2 separate regions of the Homo sapiens genome follow, and region 2 is linked to region 1. Evidence: fine-mapped expression QTL. A gene starts in region 1. The other region holds a variant in brackets. All regions are shown on one strand. Distances are between the middles of the regions. Region 1 holds the start of PPP1R13B (protein phosphatase 1 regulatory subunit 13B). Region 2 has its middle 23 kb from the start of ATP5MJ.

The links. PIP is the estimated chance that this variant, and not a neighbour inherited with it, causes the effect.
Region 2: its variant is fine-mapped to the expression of PPP1R13B in esophagus mucosa (GTEx, PIP above 0.99). The same link has a PIP of 0.9 or more in nasal epithelium.

Annotation. Positions count from the first base shown.
Region 1 is chr14:103,846,409-103,849,280 of GRCh38, reverse strand. PPP1R13B (protein phosphatase 1 regulatory subunit 13B) reads left to right here and starts at 1,706. Exons shown (of 17, transcript NM_015316.3): 1 at 1,706-1,982. The coding sequence starts at 1,974. It overlaps PPP1R13B-DT (PPP1R13B divergent transcript), which reads right to left and starts at 1,560. Exons shown (of 3, transcript NR_038436.1): 1 at 1,538-1,560. RefSeq lists silencers at 1,147-1,216, 1,237-1,366, 1,387-1,826, 1,997-2,196.
Region 2 is chr14:103,897,078-103,899,972 of GRCh38, reverse strand. No RefSeq gene overlaps it. Among named protein-coding and RNA genes, the nearest start is that of ATP5MJ, 23 kb to the left of the region's middle. The variant C/T (reference allele first, on the strand shown) is at 1,511.

The sequences.
Region 1 (2,872 bases):
GGAGTGCAAGTTGCCTAAGGCCCCACAGGAGGTCAGAAGCAGAGCAGCTAGAATTAGAACTTAAGTATGTCTCTGACTTTCAGCCTAGGATCACTCATTATCTAGAGCCTCCTCTTCTCTCCAAACTCTGCTCCCAGAAGAGGGGTGTCATTAGCCATTCATGCCCAGGTGTGGATAGGTTTAAAAATCCCAGGGACGTCTGTACACTAAGCCTCCTTGCTAATCACGGCCCAACTACAGAATGCTATTTATGGAACAGCTACCACGTGCCACAAATTGTGCTGGGCGCTTTCCATCCCTCGCATCCGAAAAAGCCTCTTGACACGAGGCAGGCACTATTATCCCTACACTCTCCCATCACAGAGACAAGCACACTACGATGCAGAGAAGATGCGGCTTGTTTAGGATCCCAGGCGAGGGTGTGGCGGAGGCGGTGCTGAACCAAGTCTGTCTAACTGGAAAGTCCACACTCGCAAACACGAGCCCCCGTGGCCTCTGAGGGACAGGGGTGGCTCCCCAGGAATGGGCTGGTGGGAGCTCCCTGGCCTCCTCCCTTGCTCTGCCCCCACTCTGCAGCAGCCAGAAGCCTCTCCGAGAACCAGACAGGCTCCAGACTGACCCTGACCTCGCGGCGGCCTTCTCCACTGGGCCGGCGCTTCCCAGGGCGGCTTACGCCTTCTGTGTCTGGGGCCATCCGCAGACCTTGCCTTCTGATGCCCGTGGGAGTTCGGTGCTGCCGCGGGGAGCACCTCAGTCCCCCTGTCTGCTCTCCGCCGCGGTCCGGGCGAATGGCACCATGTGGGGGGCCCCGAGCGGGTGCCTACCCCCCTGGCAGCCTTTACTGAGGGTCTGCTCAGGGCCCTGCCCAGGGCTCTGTCACTCCGGCGCTCAGGCCCGAGGGGGCGGCGCCTCTGGAGACGGGACTGCAGGGAGAGACCCAGGCCCTGGAGACGAGGACCGGACCCTCCCCGGGGACGCTGGAGCTGGACCTCGAGGGATGCTGGCGCAGGTGGGCACAGGTGGCACAGGTGGGCGCGGGGTTCTAGGCGGGAGATCGCTCGGGCGAAGGCCAAGGCTCGGGAGCTGGTGCGGGGGGCGCGGCCCCGAGAGCCGCGGAAGACGCCGGTGGGGGAGAAGCAGGTGCCAGCCAAGGGCGTCGGGCCGGGGCTGGTTCCGAGCGCGCGGCCTCGGGTCACATGCTCGCTCCGGGGGCCCCCCGCGCCCCTCCCACTGGCCTCTGGGCCGCAGCCCCACGGCGCGCCGGCAGCCGGGGGTCAGGCCGCGGTCAGAGTGCGGGCGCGCGCCGTCGCCGCAGGGACGCTCCCGGCCCACAGTCGGCCCCCGGGAGCCCGGGTTCGAGTCCCGGCCCTGCCGTGATCCGCTGCGGGACCCGGGCCGGCCCTTCCCTGTCGGGCCTCAGTCCTCCCACCGTCCGCGGTCTTCCCTAGTCGGGGCTCACGCAAGGGCGGGGGAGGCCACCGGTGCCCACTGCGCGTCCGCCCCTCCCCCGCCGCCGGGAGCGCGGACGCGCACGCACCTGGCCGCCGCTGAGAGCGAGGGTAGCGGGCGGAGCCGGGAAGCCCCGCCCCTCTCCCCGCCCCCGCTCCCACCGGGCCAATCAGAGGGGGCTACGGGACCCGTGCGGGGCGTCGCGCTGGGGGCGGGGCCTGCGGGGGCTGAAGAGCGAGCCGGGCGGGCGGGCCGCAGGCTGTCGGGCTGGGGCTGAGGCTGAGGCTGAGGTTGAGGCGGCGGCGGCGGCGGCCGGGTGCCCGGGACAGCGACGCAGCGCGCCGGCGGCCGCGACAGGGCCAGCGAGAGCCCCGCAGCCCGCCGCAGCTGCCGCCTCGCCGCGGCCGGGCCGGAGAGCACGGCGGCGGGAGCGCGGCCTTAGGAGGCGGCCGGAGCGGTGGGCACAGCTCGGCGCGGAGCGTCCTGTCAGGCGGCGGCCGAGGGCGTCGCGGACTCTCCCCGCGATGATGCCGGTGGGTGAGGGCGGGCGGGAGGTGGCGGCGGCTTCCTCCGCGGGCCGCTGGCCAAACCTCCTTCCTCCCGCGGCTCCCAGCCCCCGCGGGCCGGTGCGAGGCCGGGCGGGCGGGGAAGGAAGTGGCTGGGCGGGCGCGCCCGGCCGCGGCGCCCCCCAGGCGGGCAGGTGGGGGCGGCGCCGGGCTGTCAGCGCGGGGCCGGGGCCGCCTGCGGGCCCTTCCTGCTCGGCCTCCGCGGCCGCGGGGAGAAGCAGATGCATTTGGGGCCGGTCATCTCCTCGGTCCTCTCAGGTGCGCGGTCGGACGCTGGGGCACAGGTCTGGTGGGTGGCGCAGCTGTGACCCGCCTGAAACGAACGTTCTGGGGTCGCCCTGGGAGTCGGCGGGGTGGGCACCCGCGCCCGGAGTTCCCACACTCTGCAGGCGCATTCCCGTAGCCTTCGCGGTTGTACTGAGGAAAGGTGCCGAGTGCACGGATTTGGAGAGCCATCTTAGGAATTCCCTTTTCCCGTATCTGCAATGTTGGTTCGTTTTGCTTTAACTGGTTTGTTCTCCGTGTTCTGAAGGTTGAACGAGGTTCGTTTGTAGTGGTGGTGTCTTTGTCCTGCCCTTAAGGATGCTTTCGCCTAGAAAGACATTGGCCATTAGATTTGCCATCGTCCTACCGACCCTTCCCTTTACCTATAATCTGAATAGGAGGGGATGCTGAATTCTGATTTTTAAAAATTGGCTTTTTGGGAGGTAAGCATCATGACTTATGAAAAAATGTGGGACTGGTTGTACCCAGTTGGAGAGGTATTGGTTTTCTGAGCGCCTATATCGTAAGTAAAATTCTCAAACACGTTTATAGTAAAGTAACACAGTCATTTTTTTAACCTACAATACTACGTT
Region 2 (2,895 bases), 51 kb before region 1:
CCAAAACTGCGTGGGAACACCACCGTGGGCCTACCCATGTCCTGAAGTATCCAGGAGACTGGCGGGATGCCCGTCGCCTCTCCCTGCCCCACAAAGCGACTACTGTGGGGACCGCAAGGAGCCACATGGAAGAGCTGCCTGTCCTGGCCGGCTCAGGCTCTCCCCAGGCTGAGGACAACCATGGGACTGATAGAGACACTCTGTTGTTGAGATTCGGGCTTTCTCTCTTTCGAAAAGGGGTGAAGACGAAGGCTTGTGTCTGCATCTCCTCTCTGGTCTCAAAGCTGAGTGGCTTTTCCAGGGAAGCCAGCACCCGCGGCCTCTCATGCCAGCCCAAGCAGTTCTGAAGCCCACCCCTGTGACGAGGCGCTGCCGGCTGCGGAGCCTGTGCCAGCACGTCTCATCACCCAGGCGGGCTCCCCAGGCCCACAGGATAGCTCTGCCCCCAGCCATGGGTACTGCCAGGCCATCTCCCCACCCCACCCGGAGGAATTGAGGGCCTCTGCCTCACACACACATCCCTTCCCCGCAGCCCAAGCACCAGCACACCAGCAGGTGGAGAGAGTTGTTTCACTTGTGCTTGAGAAGGCGCCTTCCCTTCTAAGAGGAACTGCAGATGTGAACGTTTGCAAATCAAATTCCAACCGAAATGGCCTGCAGTGGCAGTTCTCAAAGGGTTTCCTGGGGCCACAGCAGCAGCATCTGGGAACCTGTCATAAATGCAGGTTCTTGGGCCCCACCCAAGACCTGCTTTGGGCCCTCCGTGATAGGGCCCAGGCCTGTGTTTCAGGAGCCCTCCAGGAGATTCTGATGCATACTCAAGTGCAGCCCACTGACCTAAAAGAGCCTGCCTTTGAAGGAAGCCTGGAGCAAGGCCTTCTGCAAAGACTTGAACCACCCGCAGTTCTGCCCAGTCAGCACAGCTGAATTTTCCTCCAAATACAGCACAGGGTGCACCCACCTTCAGAAGAAAAGCCCCCCGGCCCAGCTTCCAGGTGTCGTGAGGAGAGCAGCCGCAGACCGAGGCTGCATACCTGGGGCTGGGCTCCCTTCCCCTCCCCTGCCGCCCTGCCTGCCCTGCTGCAGGAGGCGAGGCCCGGCTGTGTGCTCACTGCTCCAGGCCTGATGATGGCTGGGAGCATTCAAGGAGCCACCCCTACCTGTGCCTGGGGCGCAGTTGGTCTTGTCTTAAACTCAATTTCTGGTAGACCTGGAGGCTGGGCTCAGCCTCAGTCTCCCTCCACCTCTCCACCATGTGTGTCAGGCAAAGAGGCTGGGCTTCCCCGCTATTTTCCTGCCCTGAGCTGAGCATCAAGCTGGGCCTCAGAGATCCTTCCTTTCTCCCCATGCTCCCCTCTCTCCAGGAGGGGAGGGACTCTCCTCCAATCTCCAATATATGGTACATATACATATATATATACCAAAACAAAGATGTAGCTGCTGTCACTGCTGACCAGAACACCCTTCCGGTGTGCCTTCCCACCTGAGCTGTGCCTGCACTCACCAGCCC[C/T]CTTGGGCAGATTGCCACTGTCTTTAGGAGCCAGGCTTATACCCACCTCTCCCCACATGCCTACCCAACTCTCAGGTCCCAACATGCCCAGCAGTTGAGCCAACACAAGTTGATCTAAGTTCATCAGAAGGTGAGTGTTTGACTGATTCTATACTCGCCACACAGGCCCACCCTCGTCTCATGCAAGTGACAGCCCCAACTCCACTCCTCATCTCCCAGCCTGTGAACCGAGGCAGCCATGGAGCCTGGAAGGAGAACAGACTCCAGTATCCACAGACGCCCATTCTAAGATGTTCTCACGGGGGATCAAAAGAAGCTGAGATCTACCCATGTTGGCCCTGTCGGGACACAGTATCTTTTGGGGATCCAAGAAGACACTGTGGGCCCCAGGACTCCTGGATCCCAGAACTGTGGCTGGCCCTGGACACAGAGCGGCCTAGAAGATCTTGGCTCTGTGTCTCACTGGGGCCTCCTTGACCCATTTCCAAGCTGTCCTCTCTCCTCCCCGTGCCTGCTCCCTGCTACGCTGCTCCGCTCCTCCTGACTAGGGTCACGATGCTGTGTGGGGCCCCATGGCACCCACACGACCTTTTGGCCATATTTCCCTTCTCCAAGGAGCCTCCCTCTTCTGTTTATGGTCCAAACCTGAATGGGACATCTGACTGGCCCGGCTCATCTTCGGCACCAGCCTATAGGTCTCCCGCCAGCCTATGCGCGAGCTGCCCTCGGGCCTGGTGTCCGCCGGTGATCCATGCCGCGTGACAGGCCAGGGTTTCAGGGGTTTCCTTCCCCACAGCTCTGCTCATTGTCTCTCTCCACCATTGAGACGCCCATCTGGGTCCCTTATATTTTGGTTTTTAAACCTCCCGGTTTCATGCAGTTTTATTTCATCTTTAAAGGTTGACACATGGTTGTCAGCCCAGCGGCCCTGGTCTGGAAGTCCAGGTTTGGGTGGCAATGGCGGTGAGAGTGCTTTGGGCCTCGGTGCCAGAGGCCAGCCTGGTGATTTAGACACCTCCTCCCTGCCAGGAGCCTGTGTTCACTCCAGTTCTTTCAAAGTGGCTGCAGAGGGGGGAGGTGGGGATTAAACGGAGGCTCCTCACTGCAGCAGAGGAAAGCAACCCTTGCCAAGCCCCTGGTCTTGTGCCAACTCCCTGCTGGTTTGGGGAAAGCTGATGAGGGTGGCCCGCCATGCTCTGGTTCTCAGGACAAAGTTCAGAAGGTGAGCCCAGCGTCCTGGCAACAACTACCCCTGGCTGCTCCGTGGCCACCGTGGGAGTGGTTAATAAACACCCGGGCTGGAGGTGGTAACGCCTATCTTCCAGGAACTTAGTTCAGAAGAGCTTTATGACCTGGATGGAGTCACCTGTTAAAGAGTAACGTAC